Regions from separate parts of the Homo sapiens genome. Here all the other regions are linked to region 2. Evidence: fine-mapped QTL for protein levels in blood plasma. A gene starts in region 2. Each other region holds a variant in brackets. All regions are shown on one strand. Distances are between the middles of the regions.

Region 1 (8,192 bases), 930 kb after region 2:
ATCCAGGAGTTCTGTTTTTTACTTCAACCTAAACTAAGGCTGAGGGAGGCATGCTTTTTATTATTTTCTTTGTCAGTTGACAGATTATTACTAGCCCACACTTTCATGAAGGATGTAGGTCTTCAACGTATGTGTGTTGTATGTAGTGACTGGATCTTTGGATTGTCTTGACTGACATATTGAGAGAAGTAGAAATGACTCATAACAATTTCATGGTTGTAATTACTGGATAGTACATTGATTAGGAATATGGCACAAGCATATTCTGGGAGAGGCTGAAAAACGTACTACAACAAAAGTGTACCATGATCACATGAGTTTGGCAAACTCGGCTTTTTTATTATAAGATTTTATGTCCTGTCATTCTTACATTTACATCTTTAATGTGAGTCCTATTTCCACTTTCCTGACAAAGACAACCTTTCTACTAGTGTGCTGAAACTTATTTTAGTTTCCTATTTTAGGAATTCTCCCTTTTCTTTCCTGAATTATCAGTTATCCTCTTTCTATTGGATTATTCACATCAACATAACATATTTTTATTTCTCCCTCCTTAAGAGATAAAAAAAGCCCCTCTGTCTTCCCAACCTAATTATATGGCTACTGATCCTTTTCTCTCTCTTTGTTTTATATGAAAAATTCATCTATGCTTTATTCAAGTCTCTGCTCTCATTCTCTCTTGAATCAAGTCTAGACAGACGTTTTTCTCTACTTCAACAGAGGCTGTTTTTGCCACTCTTAACAAAGTTTTCACATTGCCAAATCCAATAGTCAGTTTTCATTCCTCATTGTACTTTTTAGAACCCTCAAGGATAAGGCAGCAGTTTCTCTCAGGAATTTAGATTTTTAACACATCCTTCTTTGCGTGACTGGAAGCCGTCTGTGAAGCTTTTAGCCATTACATTTCCCTGATGTGATTGCGATAGCAATTTCCCTGTAATTTTTAGCTGTACACTGACACACAGAGTTTGTAGGAAATAAGAAATCTATAGGTTCTAAAAAGCTTTGGCCTCCTAGTTAAAACCTGAACACTATTAAAAGTGAGAGTGGCCATTTATACCAATTACGTATTTTTTTATTTTAGCTTTCCTTTTGTGACTGTAACTAATTTTAAGAGTAAGACATATGGTAACCATCTCTTGACTTTCATGCCATTGCTTTCTTCTACTTCTGGAGAGAACACAACATAGAACAGGGTCATGCTACCAATTCCATCCTTTTATGTTTCACTTCCTTGCATAGTTCATGGGTGGTGGCAGCTGGAGAAGATGTTCCAGATCATCAGTGGCCCCTTTTAGGAATAGGTAGCACTGGTATTAGGAGGTTCCAGATTCTGAAACTCAGTGATGCTTATTATTATATCCATCTAAGTACACCATGGGTAAACACAAGGCTGGAGCTGAAAATTTAGGAAAAGAGGCAGTCCAAAAATAGTTTCTGTACTCTAGAGAGATAATCATAGGTCCTGAGATTGACTCTATTTGCACAATAAGATATGATAAAGTACATTTTAACGTGGGAAGCACAATATGGATATAAGGACATGTCCTGATCATGAAGTGGAAGTGTGATGCCAGAGCACAATGTGAGCACTGAGAAAACCAGACAAAGTTTTATTGGACAAGCTCTTTTTATCGTTACTGTTTCTCTTCAGTGCCTGCTGACCATGTTATAGTGAACCTTAATGACATTATACTCATGTTTTGTTATTCCAGTTCTTATTCTTCCTTCCTTCAACATCTCAGACTTAAAATTATATAACAGCCTCTTAACAGCACTGGAACATTTTCACATGACTTCATTAAATTTAAAACAAAATGTATTGAGATGCTACTATGTGAATTACATCAGTTTGAAACTAGACATAAGTCACTTCCTTTTAGAAGTTTAAACTGTAGTGGTAGTATTATATCAAAAAAACTTTAACTTTTTTTCTCTTTTTTCCTTTTTGTTATTATTATTATTATTATTATTATACTTTAAGTTTTAGGGTACATGTGCACAATGTGCAGGTTAGTTACATATGTATACACATGCCATGCTGGTGCGCTGCACCCACTAACTCGTCACCTACCATTAGGTATATCTCCCAATGCTATCCCTCCCCCCTCCCCCCACCCCACAACAGTCCCCAGAGTGTGATATTCCCCTTCCTGTGTCCATGTGATCTCAATGTTCAATTCCAACCTATGACTGAGAATATGCGGTGTTTGGTTTTTTGTTCTTGCGATAGTTTACTGAGAATGATGATTTCCAATTTCATCCATGTCCCTACAAAGGACATGAACTCATCATTTTTTATGACTGCATAGTATTCCATGGTGTATATGTGCCACATTTTCTTAATCCAGTCTATCATTGTTGGACATTTGGGTTGGTTCCAAGTCTTTGCTATTGTGAATAATGCTGTAATAAACATACGTGTGCATGTGTCTTTATAGCAGCATGATTTATAGTCCTTTGGGTATATACCCAGTAATGGGATGGCTGGGTCAAATGGTATTTCTAGTTCTAGATCCCTGAGGAATCGCCACACTGACTTCCACAAGGGTTGAACTAGTTTACAGTCCCACCAACAGTGTAAAAATGTTCCTATTTCTCCACATGCTCTCCAGCACCTGTTGTTTCCTGACTTTTTAATGATTGCCATTCTAACTGGTGTGAGATGGTATCTCACTGTGGTTTTGATTTGCATTTCTCTGATGGCCAGTGATGGTGAGCATTTTTTCATGTGTTTTTTGGCTGCATAAATGTCTTCTTTTGAGAAGTGTCTGTTCATGTCCTTCACCCACTTTTTGATGGGGTTGTTTGTTTTTTTCTTGTAAATTTGTTTGAGTTCATTGTAGATTCTGGATATTAGCCCTTTGTCAGATGAGTAAGTTGCGAAAATTTTCTCCCATTTTGTAGGTTGCCTGTTCACTCTGATGGTAATTTCTTTTGCTGTGCAGAAGCTCTTTAGTTTAATTAGATCCCATTTGTCAATTGGCTTCTGTTGCCATTGCTTTTGGTGTTTTAGACATGAAGTCCTTGCCCATGCCTATGTCCTGAATGGTAATGCCTAGGTTTTCTTCTAGGGTTTTTATGGTTTTAGGTCTAACATTTAAGTCTTTAATCCATCTTGAATTGATTTTTGTATGAGGTGTAAGGAAGGGATCCAGTTTCAGCTTTCTACATATGGCTAGCCAGTTTTCCCAGCACCATTTATTAAATAGGGAATCCTTTCCCCATTGCTTCTTTTTCTCAGGTTTGTCAAAGATCAGATAGTTGTAGATATGTTGTGTTATTTCTGAGGGCTGTGTTCTGTTCCATTGGTCTATATCTCTGTTTTGGTACCAGTACCATGCTGTTTTGGTTCCTGTAGCCTTGTAGTATAGTTTGAATTCAGGTAGTGTGATGCCTCCAGCTTTGTTCTTTTGGCTTAGGATTGTCTTGGCAATGTAGGCTCTTTTTTGGTTCCATATGAACTTTAAAGTAGTTTTTTCCAATTCTGTGAAGAAAGTCATTGGTAGCTTGATGGGGATGGCATTAAATCTATAAATTACCTTGGGCAATATGGCCATTTTCATGATATTGATTCTTCCTACCCATGAGCATGGAATGTTCTTCCATTTGTTTGTATCCTCTTTTATTTCATTGAGCAGTGGTTTGTAGTTCTCCTTGAAAAGGTCCTTCACATCCCTTGTAAGTTGGATTCCTAGGTATTTTATTCCCTTTGAAGCAATTGTGAATAGGAGTTCACTCATGATTTGGCTCTCTGTTTGTCTGTTGTTGGCGTATAAGAATGCTTGTGATTTTTGTACATTGATTTTGTATCCTGAGACTTTGCTGAAGTTGCTTATCAGCTTAAGGAGATTTTGGGCTGAGACAATGGGGTTTTCTAGATATACAATCATGTCGTCTGCAAACAGGGACAATTTGACTTCCTCTTTTCCTAATTGAATACCCTTTATTTCCTTCTCCTGCCTGATTGCCCTGGCCAGAACTTCCAACACTATGTTGAATGGGAGTGGTGAGAGAGGGCATCCCTGTCTTGTGCCAGTTTTCAAAGGGAATGCCTCCAGTTTTTGTCCATTCGGCATGATATTGGCTGTGGGTTCGTCATAAATAGCTCTTATTATTTTGAAATACGTCCCATCAATACCTAATTTATTGAGAGTTTTTAGCATGAAGCGTTGTTGCATTTTGTCAAAGACCTTTTCTGCATCTATTGAGATAATCATGTGGTTTTTGTCTTTGGTTCTGTTTATATGCTGGATTACATTTATTGATTTGCGTATATTGAGCCAGCCTTGCATCCCAGGGATGAAGCCCACTTGATCATGGTGGATAAGTTTTTGATATGCTGCTGGATTCAGTTTGCCAGTATTTTATTGAGGATTTTTGCAACAATGTTCATCAAGGATATTGGTCTAAAATTCTCTTTTTTGGTTGTGTCTCTGCCCGGCTTTGGTATCAGGATGATACTGGCCTCATAAAATGAGTTAGGGAGGATTCCCTCTTTTTCTATTGATTGGAATAGTTTCAGAAGGAATGGTACCAGTTCCTCCTTATACCTCTGGTAGAATTCGGCTGTGAATCCATCTGGTCCTGGACTCTTTTTGGTTGGTAAGCTATTGATTATTGCCACACTTTCAGAGCCTGTTATTGGTCTATTCAGAGATTCAACTTC[T/C]TCCTGGTTTAGTCTTGGGAAAGTGTATGTGTCGAGGAATTTATCCATTTCTTCTAGATTTTCTAGTTTATTTGAGTAGAGATGTTTGTAGTATTCTCTGATGGTAGTTTGTATTTCTGTGGGATCAGTGGTGATATCCCCTTTATCATTTTTTATTGCGTCTATTTGATTCTTCTCTCTTTTATTCTTTATTAGTCTTGCTAGCGGTCTATCAATTTTGTTGATCCTTTCAAAAAACCAGCTCCTGGATTCATTGATTTTTTGAACGGTTTTTTGTGTCTCTGTTTCCTTCAGTTCTGCTCTGATTTTAGTTATTTCTTGCCTTCTGCTAGCTTTTGAATGTGTTTGCTCTTGCTTTTCTAGTTCTTTTAGTTGCAATGTTAGGGTGTCAATTTTGGATCTTTCCTGCTTTCTCTTGTGGGCATTTAGTGCTATAAATTTCCCTCTACACACTGCTTTGAATGCGTCCCAGAGATTCTGGTATGTTGTGTCTTTGTTCTCGTTGGTTTCAAAGAACATCTTTATTTCTGCCTTCATTTCGTTATGTACCCAGTAGTCATTCAGGAGCAGGTTGTTCAGTTTCCATGTAGTTGAGCGGTTTTGAGTGAGATTCTTAATCTTGAGTTCTAGTTTGATTGCACTGTGGTCTGAGAGATAGTTTGTTATAATTTCTGTTCTTTTACATTTGCTGAGGAGAGCTTTACTTCCCAGTATGTGGTCAATTTTGGAATAGGTGTGGTGTGGTGCTGAAAAAAATGTATATTCTGTTGAGAACTCTTATTTAAGATGGATTGTGATAATTAAAAAAAAAAAAAAGAAAAACAGCTATAGTACCATGAGAATACTAACAACTTTCAAACCTCTATGGTGACTTTTAATACTGACACCATGTACCTTGTGAAATGGGTATAGGAATAAGACCCCAAACAAAGGGAGAGTTATAAGGATTCAATGAGATAATCTATGTCAAGTGCTTAGCAATGTTCCTAGATCAGAGTGAACAGTCACTTGAAATTGGCTTTAATTATGATTTTGGTTTAATTTTTATTTTGCAAGCCTTTTTGGAGGAATCTCTTCTTTTGTTTTCTGAAAGATGAGCAGAATTGGAGATTTACTCCTCTGTGTTTCTGTAAGCCCTTGCATATGGTTTTATTATAGCACTTCCCACACTATTATAATTGTTTGTTCAATTATCTGTCTCCAACAGACAACAAAATGTGAGCTCCTGAAGAGACGGATAGTGTTCTATTTGTTTTCAATTCCCGAAGTTTAGCACAGAGCTTGATGCACAATAAGAGGTTAATAAATGTTAAATAAATGTTATTTAGTTTTTGTAATTGTGTTGTGTTTTCATATAGAGTGGGCAACAGTGGCATAGATTGCAATATGTCCTCAAATCTTATTGGCATAGTTATTTTGCTGTCATCTGTGGCAGTGTTTCAAAGATTCAGATGTATTTTCACACTTCTTTTCACCCTGTGAGCAATCTATCCTTTATTAGCTCACCATAAAGAAATAAGTTTGGAATGCAGCTGTTCTCCATTAGCCCCTCATAACGTACTCACTGAAACTGAATCTCTGTGAATGTTGTCCTTCCTTCAAAGGTATAAAAATATCTGGATTTTGGTTAGTTGCAGGGATAGAGGGTGGGCAGTTGTGCCATTGATTGGGACATATGAAGCAGGAGAATCTAGTTCTCATTCTGGGGAAATGCTCTGAAGCCTCATAATTCTTAGCTTCACCCAGAAAGGTAGGCAATTTCATTATGTTCATGCCACACTTTTTACTGCTTCTTTACTGAATTAGTGTACTTCACTTGGAACTCACTGGTAAAACTGGAGAAACGGGTGAATGTTCATTTTTCTAGATTATTTTAATAAAATAATACATGTAAAGATGTCCTTTGAAATATGAAGCAGTAGATCACACAACGTAGTGACAGTGATAGTGTAACCAATCTAATTGTATTTTGAATACAGTCTGCTTCTGAAGGAAGTGTTGCCCTTGCAAAATTTTAAAACTTATCTCTCAGTATTTTTGAGTTCTTCAGGGGTTGTATTGCCTATCCACAGATCCAACATTTGTGAGTTTCTGTGGGGTGGAGTGACTGGTCTGCTTCCTTTGTCATGGAGGTGTTTCCTCTCTCCATGCTGCTCCAAGAGCTGTGAACTCAACTGCTGCTCAGAAGACTAGTTGGTGACTAGTGACTGAGCTCTCTGAATGCCATACTGCATGGTGGTGTGAGTATGGAGGTAATGGAGAGATGGCTCCTCCCTTCCAATTCCACTCTTGGAGGAATTGAGGTGCCTTAATGCGTTGCACAAATTCCTGAAACAGAGTGGAGGGAAAAGTTCTGGGGACCTATTCAGGTGAAAAGTATTGTATTAGTCCATTCTCACACTGCTATAAAGAACTATCTAAGACTGGGTAATTTATGAAGAAAATAGGTTTAATTGACTCACGGTTCCACAGGCTGTACAAAAGAATGGCTTAGAGGCTTCAGGAAACTTATAATCATGGTGGTAGTCAAAGGGGAAGAAAGCACATCTTACCATGGCAGAGCAGGAAAGAGAGAGAGAGAGCAAGGGAAAGTGCCACACACGTTTAAACAACCAGATCTTGTGAGAACTCATTCGCTATCACAAGGACAGCAAGAGTGAAGTCCATCACTATGTTTCAATCACCTCCCACATGGCCTCTCCTTCAACACATGGGAATTACAATTCAACATGAAATTTGGCTGCAGACACAGAGTGAAACCATATTAGGGATCTTTGTGACACCAAATGCTACCTCTTCTCTTTTGTTTCTGAGACAAGATATTTGTGTCTGGATATTTTGCCACTTAAGATGAACAGTTGTGTACTAAGAAGGCCTTCCATCTCTGGTCTCGACTTCTCCATCCCCTAACAAAGTGGAAAAATATATATATTTTAGTTGGGCTGTGCTGACAGTCATACCCAGTTTGTATCTGATTACAAGTAATATTCTCAGCTTGGATCATTTTTTTTTTCAAAGAAGTAGAGAAAATATTTTTTATTTATTTTTATTATTATAATTTAAGTTCTGGGATACATGTGCAGAACGTGCAGGTTTGTTACATAGGTATACACATGCCATGGTGGTATGCTGCACCCATCAACCCATCATCTATATTAGGTATTTCTTCTAACACTTTCCCTCCCCTAGGCACCACCAAAAGGGCCCCGTGTGTGATGTTCCCATCCCTGCGTCCATGTGTTCTCATTGTTCAACTCCCACTTATGAGTGAGAACATGCGGGGTTTGGTTTGGTGTTTGGTTTTCTGTTCTTGTGTTAGTTTGCTTTGGTTTATGTTCTTGTTCTTTCTGTTTTTGTGTTAGTTTGCTGAGAATGATGGTTTCCAGAATCATCCATGTCCCTGCAAAGGACATGAACTCATCCTTTTTGTGGCTGCATAGTATTCCAAGATGTATATGTGCCACATTTTCTTTATCCAGTCTATCATTGATGGGCATTTGGGTTGGTTCCAAGTCTTTGCTAT
Region 2 (8,192 bases):
AAGGACACCTCCGTGAGGGACTAGGATGCCAAGAGAGAGTGATGCATTATACTCCTCATCCAATTAAACCCATAGTAAAATATTTTGGAGGGTTTTCTTTCCTGAGTGGAGGCTAAGAAAGCATTCATTAAACCTGGGAAGTTCTAAGTCTTCCAATTTGCATAGTGAATTGGAACTGTGGTAGCCTGAATATGAATGGAGATGTGGTAATTCAGTAACATGAAATGGGAAATGCAGTTTAATTACCCCAGAGATTTTTTTTTGGAACATAAATTGCTTCTACTTTTGTAACAATATTGGATTATGAACCCATTCACCTTGATGTTGTGTAATGAAGCCTATAAAGCAAGTCATAAAAATGCTTTGTTTGCAATGCTGTTTTTAGAAACTCCAATCTTATGGAAAAATCTTCTCATTATTGAAAGCATTTGTAGTCTCCCCAGAATCCTAGAAATTAAAAGATTCCTGAGCGCAAGGTCCTTCCTACCTAGTTAATGAACGAGGGAAGAAATATTCCTCAAGTTACCTCAAATCTGTAGATCTGGATTATACAGTTCTTTACTACTACCATAAAGTATAATTTAATCTAGAAATGGCCCAAATATACATCTGAAAAGAGATATTGATTTGAAGTGACAGTCCAGGACCAATAACAATTTTAAGGGAAAACACTTTTTATGAAATTACATTTCTGCCATTAGAAAAAATATCTGAAGAATAACAAGTTCACCTTAGAAAACCAAAAGGTAAATTTTAAAAAATTAATATTGAATGAAAATTAAAGGAAGAATAACAATCTACTTTTTACTTATTACATTAGTATAAAGTTTAAAAAGCAATAACATTCAGAGTTAATGAGGATAAATCATCCTCAGACTTTGGACATTTGAGTATAAATTGCTACAAATTGAAGCAAATAATTTGGAAATGTGTATTAAAATCTAAAATATGCATTCTATTAACTAAAAATACTGCTTTTGGGACTCTGCCCTGTTGTATTCAGAAACATGTATAGCTAATATAAATGTATAAAGGTGTTTATTGCAGCATTGTGTGTCACAGTGTACTACTAGAAATAGATCCGTATATCTGTAATTATAGTTAATTAATAAAATATTAAACTGTAAAAAGTATACATTAGATGTTGATGTTAATACTGGAGGGATGCCCTTGAATTAATAATAGAAAGTTGAAGGATAATATACAAAACATAGTCCCTTTTCTGTAAAACCAGATAACAACAACAAAAAAAAAACCTTTAGATATGGATTTGTATATTTCCATAAGCATGGCTCTTTTAGTGTTGATTACCTCATGGTAGGGGCAGCACTAAACTGCTTTAGAGCTCCATAATCTACATTAGTTCCCTCAAAAGCCACTTCATATAAACATAAAAAGAACACACAAAAAAAACTATGTCCAAACTTGCTGTTTGGACATAGTTCCAAGGAAGTCTCCCATTTATTTCTCACTCTCTCTCAAGTCACAGCACCTATACATTTCTAAATGGAAATTTGGAAGTTGCCATAGCTTCAGGAAAGTGAATAAGAAAAAAGATTACTTTCATATAAATATTTTTAACTTTTACAAATTGTCTTGTAATACTTTTGGAAGTTAAGATAAAATTCTAAAAAACCAACAAACAGATTATGGTGAAAATGTTTAGGAATTTTTACCACAGTGTGTGGTCTCTTTTTAGGAAGAAAATTAATTTTAATTACTTTTTAAAATAGTAGAAATGTTGCTCTTTTTTCATCAGTTTGTTCAGTCCATATTCCTACATACTTTTTCTAGCATTTTTCTTTGTCTCAGAACTGTATCCAAAGTCTAGACATTGTTAGCTCTGTCAAGACTAGCAAGGGTCAGAGTGATTCTTCAAGTCATTCCTTAGTCACTGCATTCTCACTCTCTCTTCAAAGTTTATTCTCTAGCGCTGGTCTCCAAGTTCACACACTATATTTTTCACACAGCGACCCTGGCCACTAACATAGGACCAATAGGACCATCAGTGAGAATCAGATGAGGTATCATAAGTAAAAATAATGTATGAACTGGAAAGTACTATGGAAGTGAGGATTCCATTAAGAAGATTATTGAAATAGGCTAGCTTCAAATTGATGGGTCTCTGAAAAGGATACTTACAAAAAAACTCCACAAATATAATAATGGATAGAGCCCTAATCTCAAAAACATAAATTTGAGGGGTCCCAAACTCAATTACACAAGGTTAAGAATATAGAGCTTGGTAAATTCTCTCTCTCTCTTTTTTTTTTTGGAGACAGAGTCTTGCTCTGTCACCAGGCTGGAGTGCAGTGGCGTGATCTTGGCTCACTGCAACCTCCGCCTCCCAGGTTCAAGCCATTCTCCTGCCTCAGCCTCCCAAGTAGTTCAGATTACAGGTGCCCACCCCCATGCCCAGCTAATTTTTGTATTTTTAGTAGAGACGGGATTTCACCATGTTGGCCAGGATGGTCTCGATCTCGTGACCTTGTGATCTGCCTGCCTCGGCCTTCCAAAGTGCTGGGATTACAGGCGTGAGCCACCGCGCCCGGCCGGTAAATTCATTTTAATTCACTTTAAGCTTATATTGGCTATGTGTAGATTTTCTCTTGTTCCTTCATTTTGTTTTAGTACAATTGTAATTAGACTTTTGGGATACATTTTTAGTGGACTTCAAGGTCCAAAAGACTCAAAGCCAAATACTCCAGAAGTACTTATGTAAATAAGAAATAATCCAAGTATATAATTAATTATATTAAAATACATAACACATATACATATGTATATATAGTACAGAACATATATACATATGTGTGTATACATACATATATATTACATATATATATATATATATATATATATACATAACATAGCATACATTTAGTTAGATAGCTTTTCCAACTCTGATGGTGACTTCCAATTTCTGAAAAATTCTCCAGTAGGGGTTGCTTGAAACAGAAAGAAGGAGACGTGTGTGTTAAGGCGACTGAATGGGGCTGTGGTGGTAGCACTAACGTACCTACTTATGAACCTGGTCAGATCCTTCCTTTCTCTTTGTTTTAGTTTACTCACTCCTTCTAAACTGAAAGGCAGTAAACTCTAGTATCTGTAAGATGACTTCCTTATCTAAGATTTTAAGGTTTTATAATTTAACTGTATTACTTTCCAATTATAATTCTACTTCATGCTGAAAAGAAATCCATAATCTAGCTTTTTTCGTGTTGGCAAGGTTAGTTCATAGAAACCATCTTAAGAAACATTGACATGATGGCACAAAATAGAGTGATTATTGATAGCAATCAACTCATTGTATACATTAATCAAATTATTCTAATGCGTGCCAAGGTTTCACATGCTTTTTTTTTTTCAAACAAATACTGAAAAGTCTTGGAGAAATCACACAAGAATATAATAATCTTTTATGTGATTTTACCCGTCATCAGCTTTCCCCTTCTATCTGAACATTTAAACCTCTCTAGATAACAAGAGTTTTACTATAATATTCAGGAATAAGATTCTTCCTGGACTAGGAGGATGTAGGGGGAAATGAGCCTCTGTTTTCAGCATCCAATCTCTGAGCAAAGGATCTCCCACCACCTGCTGCTTCCAACAAGCCCAAACTCTCGCTCCAGCTAGCTTTCCTGGGAACAGAGCAGAAAACTGGAAGGGAGGGGAAGAAGGCTGGTGAGAGCAAGAGGCGGGGAGTGAGGAATGGGAGGCTGGAGGAGGCGTGGCCCGGCTTGGGGCCGTCGGGATAAATACTGAGAACTGGGTGCGGGGTGTAGGGAGAGAACTCTGGAGGAACGCTGAGCTGAGCAGCACCGAGGACAGCGCCCGGCAGCGCCCGCGCCCAGGTCTCCCTCCGCAGCCCTGACTCGCGCACACGCTGAGCTTTTGCTCACTCCCCCTCGCGCGGACACAGACACACGCATATTCACACACCCAGACACACACCCCGCTGTACAATGGCAGAATCCCACCTGCAGTCATCCCTCATCACAGCCTCACAGTTTTTCGAGATCTGGCTCCATTTCGACGCTGACGGTGATTATCTTCTCTTTTTAACTGTTTCAAGACCCGTTTCCATGCCCCTTCCCATTCTTTGCCCTTTTCTGAGCCTCCTGATCCCATTATCCCTCCTTTCTATTCTTTACTTCTTCCCCCTTCTGCCTAATCTTATCTTCTTATCTCCCCGACTGGCCGCCAAACTGTCAACCTGAAAGTTTATATTGTTTCCACCGTAATCCCAAAACCTTAAACTTTTGTCTTTCCAGGAACGGTAATGGTAGGAGAGAGAGAGCAGGGATTGGGGAATGCTGCCCCCCCAAAGTTTCTGTGGCTGCGCTTAGCACCCCAACCATCCTCCTTTGTCCTCAGTGGATCTAAAGTTTGATACCCCAGGAGGGGAGCGCTTCACCGTCTGTACACTTTGCTGGTTAATCAACGTCCAGGCAAGAGAGAGCCTCTCGGGTCGCCAGAAAGATAACTGTCTTGGAAAGTGAACGGGAAAGACACTTGGAATGAGATATCTGACACCTGGGTGCCTCTTTGTCTTTGCAGGAAGTGGTTACCTGGAAGGAAAGGAGCTGCAGAACTTGATCCAGGAGCTCCAGCAGGCGCGAAAGAAGGCTGGATTGGTAGGTTCAAGTTTGCGAAAAAGAAAAAAAGACTTTTAACCCCCAAATTAAAACATTCTTGTGTTTTCACAAAAAGCCAGTAGCGTAAAGCGCTTTCTGGGTAATGTAAACGTTTATTGACTGCGAAAGGCAAGAAAAAACACTTTTCCAACTCGAATACAGAGAAATGGGAAAGGGGAAAGAGACTGAGAAAGAGAGAGGGGGAGAGAGAGAGAGAGAGAAGGGAGGGACAGAGAAGGGAGGGAAGAAGGGAGAAAGGGAGACAGACAGAGAGAGACAGATTTTCTAAAGGGAAAAACCTTGCTATCTGAAACTGGAGCTTTAAATATATATATATTCTATACTAGTACTTGCATTAATAGGTCTTAAAAGGGAACTGTGGGTGCATGAGATTCTTTAGCGGATCACCACCTCTACCACTGAGTTTGATTAGGTAATTTTTAAATTCTCTTTTACTGTGTGAGAAATAAGGGGGTGGAAATGCATTTCTGCCCCTTGGTGGTCAAGAAACAGATCTGCAGATTATGGATCTCTTACTCTATCACCAATTATTATTGTTGTGATGTTGATGTAGTTGGGGAGATGAGAAAACATCTTGTCCTCACTAAGGGTAAGTTGCCCAACTTGCAACCTAACAGTGAGAAAGAATTTAGCAAGAAAAGATCTTCATTTCTGTTGAAAGCAAGAAACCCAAAAGGTAGAGAAGTAAAAAGTAAAACAATTTTAAGAATTTCATGTATTGTAAAAAAAGCAAAGTGATACTCTGATGGGCAGCAATTGATGGTGTTTTGAAAATGGCTATGTTCGTTATTTAAGCCATTAGTTAATTAAACAAATAACCATTCTTATTAATTATAAATGACTCCCTTTGGGCATAAATTAACCTGTTAAGAAAATATGTTGTCAGCATAAATATAAAATACAGTCAGCTTTTAAACATAGATGAGATGGTTGTCCAGAGGAAAATGGGTTAAAAATTGTACTACTCTATTGAGGTTTATGTAACACTGCCTTTCAGAAGGCAGTGTTGAATTGGGATGAGTTACACGTTAATGGTCTTTGGCCTTTTTGACTACGTTTAGAAAGAGATTTTACACTACCAATGATGTATATATTATATAGCAGATCACCACCTCTAATATTGAGTGATATATATAAAATTTAATAATAGAACTTTTTGCCCTATCTAAATTGAAAATTGTGTAATATACATTTCTGTACAGCATATTCAAAAGAATCCCAGAGGGCTCTAAATGTATTATAATGCACTATAGAACTATCAGTTACAAAAATCATTGACCAAATTGATTTTAAACCAGATTGTGCTCTAGGGATTGTTTTACCCAGATTTAATATTATATAATCTAAAAGTATAATAGAACGGAATAAAATAGCATAAAAATGTTTTATATACTCTCCACCCTCCCCATGTCTTATATATTGCCATGTAAATAAATTTATGCAATACTGTCATTATAGCTTTATATATCTTTGGCTAATCTAATAAAAGCAATTATCTTCCTCATTTAAAAATACATATTTTAAAATCAGGTTGGAAAAGTCTTACTTTCCATAAAATTTAGAATTAAAACCTTGGAAGATGCTTCCAGCAGGTAATGATTATATTTTATTTTGTGCAGAAGTAATTTTAATATTGAAATCTATTTTCAGCTTAGAAATTTAAATATTCATGAACTTTAAAAAAATATTTTTCTTCCTCTGATTTTAATATTTGTACCTTTTTGTAAGCAATATCTTCATGTTGGAGATTTAGAATTTAATTATTTTTCTCTGTTTTGGAATATTCAAAGCTCCAATTATTAGACTATAATGTAATGATACTAAACAAGCATAGTTATAGGATTATATCAAGTTGCTTAATACCTTGATTCTTGAGCATTTTTCTGGAATGTAAATACAATCTGGATTTTTCTGAATTTAGTATTTTTCTTGATTTGGGTAGTTAAAATCTAAATCAAGATGTGGATTCAGAGTTTCATATAGTAGATACATGTTTCATTATACTACTAACTTCATTGCATTAAACCTACTTGTATATATTTCTTCTCTTTCTTTAGAACATAAAAATTGCCCTTATAAACCAGGCTTTTTGCATTTCTAGCCATAGGATAACAGATTTCATTGCATTAATGGAAACATTGTTTGGCTTTTCGTATTAATAACATGAAATTTCAAAATTTTCACTAGGTGAATATAACATTAATTAAATATAACAATGCAATATATTTTCAGAAACTATCCTTTTACACTAAACATAGTGTTTGGTCTTTGTAGTTGCACTCATTTTTATACATTTTTAATTGGTGGTGATTATATGTTTTGCACTGTTTAAAAAATAGATTTTGACATACTTGTCAGAAACTTCACAAAGTAAATGTCAAGTCTGCTCGTGAAAGTAGTGGTATTACACCATTTTAAAATTTAAGGACAGATGCTTTGGTTTTTGTTTACGTTAAGATGTATGTAAAAATAAAAAAACTGTAGGACCTGATATTCCCACTATTGCCATGGTTGAACACTTTCATTTTCTTACAATTGTTTCTATAACAAAATTAGATAAATACAAATTGTAATTTATCCATAGTAAGTTTTATAAAGACTAAAATATAATTATATTGCTTTGTTATTATTTATTATCTTAGTTCAACTAAAGATGTCTACATTGGTTCCAAACGGCTTTTATAAATACTAGTAATAATGATATTTAGTCTCAATATAGCCCTTTAATTATATTAACCTATCTATCCCCAAAGCAAACTTGTGTGGTAGATAATACCACCATCTTGTTAGCTATGATGAAAACCGAGACCTTAATTTGCTTTCCCAAGGACGTAGAATAGAACATTAGTAAGGGCTGACCTATTTTAAATAGGCTTCAGCTAATGCAACAGGGCTATTTTAAATGGGCTATGTTGGAGACCCAAGGGTAAAAATTAAACCTCCTGAATACCAGTTCTATGTTCAGATCACTAGTTTATAGTTCATAGCTCTCTAATCTATTTAATTTTTAAATTTATTTAATTGATGAATGCCTCTTTTATGCTTAAAACAATCTTTGCTTACAAAGTGAGTTAATCTTTAACATTCACATTTTTTGCTTGTTCAAAATGAAAACATATATTACTCTCCATAGATAAAACATTATGTTAGAATGAGAAAAATGTTGTAAGACAAGATAGTGTAGCAATATAAGGTAATCTTTAATGAAGCAAGCATTGTTTAAAATATATTGATGGTGATGATTATGTTAAAATTCACTAAAAGTTATGAATGGAATGATTCTGACTACACTTTCAAAGGATAGCATAGTCTCAAAATTAATAATAGAAGATAAATCATATTAATTGAGAAATAATCATGATTACAACTCTTTCATTTGGAACTAATAAATACTGTGTATCAGTTATGCCTTTAATTTTTTTGAGAATAGTTAATCATTATGCATATTTCTAAATGGTTCTAATTTTGGTTTTTCTTTGCAGTAAGTTATTAACACCATCACAAGCATAACTGGTATTTTTTTAACAAACCTCC
Region 3 (8,192 bases), 30 kb before region 2:
TTTGCAATTCATGATAACTGCAAAGGGAAATAATTTTTCCTTCACTGTTTATGCTTTACACCCACCAATGTTAATGAAAATGACACTTGAGAACAAATGCCAAATTGGTCTTTAGTGTTGCTGGAGCCCCCAATGTGGCTAGCTGAAAATATGCATAGCTGATGACATGGCAAATAAGTCTCATTGGGGGTAATTCCACAGCTGAATAACAACAGATTTGCATTAGCAAATTCTAATTACACTGACTAATTTCCTTATCATCCCCTATGGCAATACAGACCTTTTTCAAGTTCACAGGAATCAAGAGATGAACTAGTTAACCTTTTAAGGGTGTGTACCTTAGTTTTTGGGGTTTTTTCCATATAACACTTTATTGAGATGCCCATCATATAATGTATTTGCTTTTGAATCACATTATATTATTTCCATAATAAAGAGCATTTGGAATTACACAATCCAGAATCTCCAGTATTTAAGAATGCTATTACCTATGGATCTCCCTAGTTCCAACATGTGGCTAAAATAAATATATTCTCAAAGGATAATTATGACTTCTCAGATACAGACAAGTGCATAATGGAATATTGTATTACATACATGTAGGCAAAAATTTATATTTCATTAATTGAGATCCAAATGTTCGTAAATCATTCCAAATACTTTGTTATAAATTCACACACACATTTATTTTATATAAAGGCCAATGCTTTCTTTTTTCCTGTCTAGGATACAGAAAAATTATGTGGGCTAAATATCAGAAACATTTTTATAACTGATCATGAAGTTTTTAGCAGGCCAAACACAATATAAACATCGTGAAAACACAGCCCAGCCTCCTGGGCTCTTATAAGCTACTTCACACTCCTTTACAACCCCACATCCTCCCTCTGCTATTCTTAATCTTTACTGTGTAAATAAGAAAACACTGCATAATGGAAGGATCATGGAATACATCTTCAACCTGTGATGCCTCAATGCCACAACTCTCTTCACTAAGGAAGACTTTCTGAAGCTGCTGGTTTCCAAATATCAGATATTTAGAGTTGAAAGAGACCTTTTAAATGTTAGTGCAATCCCTTTTCTGATTTTTTAATTTCGTCTACAACAGCTAATGACACAGAATATTCCACTTACTACGAATCCCACTGTCCAGATTCCATTTCTGGACAGTTCTGACTTTCACTCTTTTTCTCAAATTTTGAAATTAAAATCTCTAAATGTTTTATCCATTGGCCTTAAAGATAACTCTTTAATAAAAGGTGAAAAGGCATACAGATTTTTTAGAACACTTTAAGTGCTAAAGAAGCCAACAACCCAGAAAGCCAGTTAACAGGTTAAAAAAAAAAACAAGAACAGCCAACTTTTTGTAGCCAAAGGATCAAAAACAATGGCAGCCTAACAAAACAGAAGACTTACTACAACCAACCAAAGAGAGAAAACTATGGCACACCCCAGACCTGCCAGCAAAAGCCAAGAAAGGAACATAGACTTCCACTCTTATCCAGCTATAACAAGGCACCCCTCCCGCTGGGGGGTGGGAGGTTAATCAGAGAAGTTGGAGTTGGGGAGCAGGACTTTCATCCCACCTGACAGTAACTCCCACCCACATGATGTCAGTGGAAGACACATGTGGGCAGTAAACAGCCTCCCCTTCCCTCCCAACCAGAGTGGTGTCAATGCAGCCAGCAAGGAGGTTTGATTCCCACCTATATCCACCAACAGAGAGACACTCTACCCCTACTCTAGGGTTTCAGTGGAGGCTGAGGGGAGACTTGCACTTCTACCTTCCAGAGATAGTAATGAGGCTGCAGCCATGTTTGCCCAGAGCTGCAGTGTCAGAAAAGACCTACTACATCATAAGATTTAAATCAAATCCACAGTGTCACTACATCATGCCAAAAATATGCAGGATACAATAAAAAATCTCCCATCATACCAAGAATCAGGAAAATCACAACTTGAATGAGAAAATACTATCAACAACACCAACAGAGAGGTGACACAAAGGGTAAAGTTATCTAACAAAGATTTTTAAAGCAGCCATCACAAAAATGCAAAGAAATAGTTCTTGGCAAAGAAATAGGAAGTATAAAATATAATGTATAAAATAGAACCAAGTGAAATCTCATAAGACAAAAAAAAAATCAAAAAATCTCAGCAACAGCCATAATATCAGAATGGAGAGGACAGAAGAAAGTATTGGTGAACTTGAAAACAGAATAATTAAAATTATCCAAATTAAGGAATGGAGAGAAAATAGACTGAAAAAAAGTTAAACAGGGTTTCAAATGGTACTATAACAAAAGATTTAACAGTTGTGCCATTGAAGTCCCAGAAGCAGAGGAGAAAAAAGGTAGGCCTGCAAAAATAATGAACGAAACAATATTATAGTTGAAAACTTCTCAAATTTGGCAAAAGATATAAACCCACGTATTTAAAAAGCTAAACAAAATCACAAACGAGATAAACCCAAAGTAATTTACGCCAACACATATCATACTTAAGCTTTTAACAACCAAAAGACAAAACAGTTAAGAACATCTACAATGTTAAAATAAGGGAACTCCAAGTCTGAAACCAGCAAAGTATGATCTTGCAGCTTAGTTGAATCATAAATATTTAGATGGGGAGCAAAGAACTAAAATTAAGTGACTGATAGTGTAAAGAAATTGTAGGGTTAGGGAGATTCTGAGGATGGCTAATGGCTGAGGTGGGGAAGGCTGGAAACGTCATAGAGGATATAGAGGATATATAACTGGTTCTGCAAATATTAGTTGTAACATGAGCTTCGTTTCCTAAACTCTTAAAGAGTTGTGCTAGAAAATTTCAAAGATCTCTTCTATAATAATACTAAGATTCTAAGTTCTGCTCACACAAGACTGAAAGTATCCCATAGTAAAATGAGCTGCAGATTTTGTGAGTATAAAAGCATGCATTGGAGTTGAGGAGGTAAGGTTCAGTTGCAGCCTACAAAAGGAAAGGTTATAAAAAGTATTGCTGGGTTACAATAACCAGTACATCTGCTTGTCTTTTTATCTGTAGTCTCCATCCCAATATCAGATCTATGCTGATCTAGTCTCTAGCAGTGAGTTCTGGGATGAATGGAACCAGCTTGAACTGGCTCTCAAGAGCCACTTGTTAAATATCCAGAAAAAAACATTTTGCAAGCCAGTTGTTCAATTATCGGTAGCATACAGCCATGGTGGGAGTATTTACACCACAGAAATGGGCAAGTACTACAAAACAGAGCATTTTATTCCAAGAGCAGTTTACTAGCATACCACTGAATGGCAATTCTTCTTCCACAGGCTATAGATTTATTCTTATTTTGGCCCCTGCCTACCTCTCCAACCTCATATCTCACCATCAAACTCCGTCCATTCCCCCACATTAAATTCTCTCAGCAATACTTAAAAGATGCAGGCCCAGAAGGACCTTATGCTCCCTCTAAGCTCTGTGCTTTTGTACATGTTGTTCCCTTTACCACCACCACCATCACTACATCCACCATCAGCACTAACCCCCAAATCTACCTTCGACTCTACTTTTGCCTACATAATTCCTTCTTGTGCTTAGATACCATCACATCCAGGAAACTTTTCCTGCCACGGTTGACTGGATTAGGTACCCTCTGTGTTCTCCCATAGGGCTCTATAGTATCTTTCTATAACACATATCACATGGTGTTGAAATTCCTTGTTTACTTCTCTGTGTTTCTAGCTAAAGAAAAAACCCCTTGAAAACAGGGAGCGCCTGATTTAGTATTGCATCCCCAACTTATATACAGTGGAGGGCACATAGTGATTGCTGAAAAATTGTTGCTGAATAAAAACTTTATTAACAAATTCCAGACCAGTATTTGCTGTTCAGTTTCATTATCACCCATGAAAAACATTTCCAATTATGTAAGTGGAATGGGTTAGAAAATATGATTTGCTTTTGGAAAGTCAGTTGAAATTCAACTTCATTAACGTAAATATATTTCATAAAGTGAAAAATGGCTCTATATATGCTCACATATCTACATATATACTTAGTGCATGTTTATCTACTTATAGATAACTCTGCTTATCTTCAAATAATTTTTAAACAATGCTTATCATCATTAACATTATAATTATTGGTGCTTTAGTTAATTTGCATTTCCATGACACCAAACACCACGGTGCTGAGTGCTGTGCATATAAGAACATTCTAATTGCTTTCCATCTAACTAACAAGATATTTGTTTAGTGCTCATCAAGACTCTCCCTGGGCACATACATGATGTTAAAAAGGAAAAAAAGAAAAAACAATGAAAAACAACACTTTCCTAGAGGAATTAAATCTTTCAATCTGATTCAGCTCTGCGTATACCAAAACTTCATTATTCCCAGAAACAAAATAGAGAAGAATCCAACTTTCCAATGCTCCCTAATGGCCAGGGAACATTCTTAATGTTTTGTTTCCTGAAAATGCAAACACAAAGATCTTAGAATAAAATTTGTTTTGTGTCAGATGGATTTTCAGTGTTTCTTTCTCTCTTTTTTTTTATTTGTTACTGATTAGCATATTTTACTCTCATTTTTGTTGAGACCTTAAAATACTCCTTTTTCATCTCCCTTGAAGACATTTTTCCCAGGAGATTTATTGATTTTGTGCCATAGCTAATTGAAAGGGGTTTTGATAACCTAAGAGTCACTGAGACTGCACTCAGCTTTGGCAATCACAAAGTACCTCAAAAATGTACTTATCGCTTATGATCAACAGACCTCACTTTGCTTCATGCTGGCATTGTTTGCGATGTGGAAGTCAAAAGGTCATTCAAAATGGCACCTGTGGTTAATGAATTATGACCCATGAATGGAAATTAACAATAACCATCCAATAATCATGCACCAGTAAAATCACCATGGAATTTTTCTAACATAAAGGGCATGGGAATGGTTGCCCTAGTCAATTATAATGTATCAGGATTAGATGCATCTTAAGATAAGAATCTTGAGTCTAAATTGAGCACTTTAATATGTTAACCTTAATAGATGCTTAT[T/C]ATAACTGCATTAAACACCAGCTACTTGAACTGGCTAGCATCCCACCAAGCACTTTACATATGGTTCTTTTTTAATTCTTACAACAAAATGAGGTAGAAACCACCATTTTTCAGATTTTAGAACTACTCTTGACCAAGGTCACACAATTAGCAAGTAGCAAAATCAAGATTTTAAGTAGGTTTTCCTAACTGCAAAGCCTGTGCTTTTTCGATTACCCTGCAGTGCTTAATCTGGGATAAAAGTTATCTTTTAATGTATAATAGGATAACATTAAAAAATGCTGAATTGTTTAAACTCCCCAAACTCTCAAAAAGAGATGTAAGTCCACTATTGATGTTGTTATGAATTTTACCCATGTATGCTGTTCTATCTCCCTTTCTACATATTCAACTTCAACCCACATCCTCCCTAACACTAGTTAAACCAGAAATGAATGCATTTGGAATCTACTATTTTTCTTTCCCTAAACAAAACAAAAAAAAAGATGACATTTTGGGCTGGATGACTAAAAAATTTATTTTAAAGAAAACTGAAACTAAAAAAATATACAAAATATTTTTTATATTCTGATATCCTAGCTTTCTCATGTACAAGAACAGTTAGTTGGCATACCGGCCTGCTTCATGCCCACATTTACAGACTGTCATCCCTGGTAAAAAAATTTTTAATCATGAAAACAGACGAATTGTCTGTTAGCATAAGTGACAGTAAGACGTCAGCATTTTTTTTCTTTTATTGACACAGCTATAAACTCTTTTTTCTTAGAGGGTTCATTGGAAAAAGTAAAAAGAAGCCAGAGTTAAATGCCCACTAACATGTAAACCAAAAGTACATTCATAAAATACGACAGCATAAACTGGCTCCTTAAATTTTTTTATACAGGAGAATCTGATTGGATGGAGCGACTGGGAAACTTGACTTAAAACTTGACTGAATAGCAAGTAGACTGAGAATTACGTACTGGGGGTTGTTAAAGCCCCAGGAACTTGATTATAGCTACTGAAGAAATTTCAAAGTAAAAACAAAGTTTCCTCTCTTCCAAAATTCTAATGATGGGTTTTCTGGTTTTGCGTGTAAGGAGCTTGGAAACGACCACTCCATCCAAACAAGTAAAAAGTTAAATAGATTGAAAAAACAACTCTTTTTGTGTATGTAAGAGCAGTAAGGTCACTAGATTAAACTGCTGATCCCAAAACTGGAGAAACAGACAGGCTAAAAGAGGGAGTCACAAGTTTCTGGAGCAGAGAATGACAAGTGGAAACTGTGGAAAGGCAGGAAAACCTGAACTGTAATTGACAAGTTGCTGGAGACTCAGTGCAGACAAGTCTGAGGGTTAAAAACTCCAGAGAGACACCATCAATGGGCACCCCCTACAACACACACACACACACACACACACACACACAATATTGTCAGATTCACCTCTAAGAGTTCCCAGATTTCTAAGTAAATATCACAGAAAAATCCCCTCTTGCTCTTCGCCGGGGTGGGGGAAATTGAACCATTCTGAAATAAGCCAGAGCACTCTGTTCTTCTTAACAAAGCCTGCCCTCAGGGGAAACTAGTTAACCAGACACTAACTTGCTGGGGTATTATCAGAGCCTAGCTGACCTGGGGAAAAACAAATCTCTAACTCCAACACACTCTAGCCTTCTATGTGAAGGAAGAGAAACACCCAACTCCTCCAGCCCACTCTAACCATCCTATCCAACCTAAGGGAGGAGGAAAAAACCTGAGAAACATTTGTGAAGTTCACAGGCCAGAAGCACAGGCTCACTAAAAGACTGAGACATATTCATGGAATTATAGAATGCTTCCCTTCCCCACACACCTTGCCACCACATTATTAAAGGCCTATTTATAGCAGTTTTTCTACCCAGTACATGATGTCCAACTATCAAAAATAAAAAAATTATAGGGCACACCAAAAGGTAAAAAACACAATTCAAAGAGACAGAGCAAGTACCAAAGCCAGACATGACTGGGATATTGGAATTATCAGACCAGTAATCTAAAACAACATCAATGAATATGTAAAAGTTCTAACGGATAGACGGCTTGCAAAAACTGATGGACAATGTAAGTAGAGAAACAGAACTCCTAAGAAGAAACAAAAAGAAATGCTATAGATCAAAAACACTGTGACAGAATTAAAGTATGCCTTTGGCAGGCTTATCAAATAGATACAACTAAGGAAAGAATCTCTGAGTTTGAGGATATATGAACAGAAACTTTTAAAATTGAAAAGCAAAGAGAAAAAAAGTGAAAAAAAACCAGACTATCCCAGGACTATGGGACGATAATAAAAGATGTAACGTACTCATAATGGGAATACAGAAGAAGAAACAGAGAAAAGAACATAAGAAATATTTGAAACAATAATGTTTGAGAATTTCCTCCAAATTAATGTCAGACATAAAACCACAGATTCAGGAAGATCAGAGAACACTAGGCAGGCTAAATGCCAAAAAACAAGCAAACAAACCAAAAAACAAACTACACCTAGGTAAATCATTTTCAAATTACAGAAAATCAAAGATAAAGAAAAAAACCCTGAAAGAAGCCACAGGAAAAAAGCACCTTACCTGTAAAAGGAACAAAAAGAAAACTTGTATTCAGCTTTTCCTCAGACACTGTGCAAGCATGGAAAAATTTGAGTGAAATATTTAAAGTGTTGAGAGAAAAAACACCAGCCTAGAATTTTGTATCCTTTGAAATTATCCTTTAAAAGTGAAGGATAAAAGAAGACTTTCTCAGACAACCAAAAATGAGGAAATTTGTTGCCAGTACATCTGCCTTGCAAAAAATGTTAAGTTCTTCAGAGGGAAGGAAAATGATATGTCAGAAACTCAGATCTACATATAGAATAGAAGAGCATTGAGGAAGGAATAAGTAATGTAAAATAAACATGTTATTTTCTTAGTCTAACAAATGTTTGTTCAAAATAACAATAGCAACAATGTGTCTAATTATGTACACTTTTTATATATATACTTATGCATGCTAATATATGTGAACTGAATGACTACAATGAATCTGGGAATCAAATGGAGGAATTAGGATTATTTTGTTACTATAAAGTACTCACACTATCTATAAAGCACTATGGTGTTATTTGAAAGTGGATGTGGATTAGTTGTCAATGTATATTGAAACTGGATG

Alleles and levels. Positions count from the first base shown, and alleles are read on the strand shown. Strength reflects both the effect of a copy and how common the allele is.
For the plasma level of the protein whose gene starts at base 3,784 in region 2, allele T in region 1 goes with a lower level than allele C (weak association).
For the plasma level of the protein whose gene starts at base 3,784 in region 2, allele T in region 3 goes with a lower level than allele C (moderate association).

Evidence for each region. A credible set is the group of variants that fine-mapping cannot tell apart. PIP is the chance, under the fine-mapping model, that this variant and not a neighbour inherited with it causes the effect. The UK Biobank Pharma Proteomics Project read protein levels with antibody pairs (Olink). The fine-mapping took linkage between variants from a reference panel, not from the people measured, so its PIPs are less certain.
Region 1: its variant is the best candidate, but not a certain one, in a credible set for the plasma level of the CALB1 protein (UK Biobank, PIP 0.52).
Region 3: its variant is the best candidate, but not a certain one, in a credible set for the plasma level of the CALB1 protein (UK Biobank, PIP 0.72).

What each region holds. Positions count from the first base shown.
Region 1 is chr8:89,152,523-89,160,714 of GRCh38, reverse strand. No RefSeq gene overlaps it. Among named protein-coding and RNA genes, the nearest start is that of PARAIL, 600 kb to the left of the region's middle. The variant T/C (reference allele first, on the strand shown) is at 4,670.
Region 2 is chr8:90,078,471-90,086,662 of GRCh38, reverse strand. CALB1 (calbindin 1) reads left to right here and starts at 3,784. Exons shown (of 11, transcript NM_004929.4): 1 at 3,784-4,044; 2 at 4,561-4,637. The coding sequence starts at 3,966.
Region 3 is chr8:90,108,193-90,116,384 of GRCh38, reverse strand. No RefSeq gene overlaps it. Among named protein-coding and RNA genes, the nearest start is that of CALB1, 29 kb to the right of the region's middle. The variant T/C (reference allele first, on the strand shown) is at 5,030.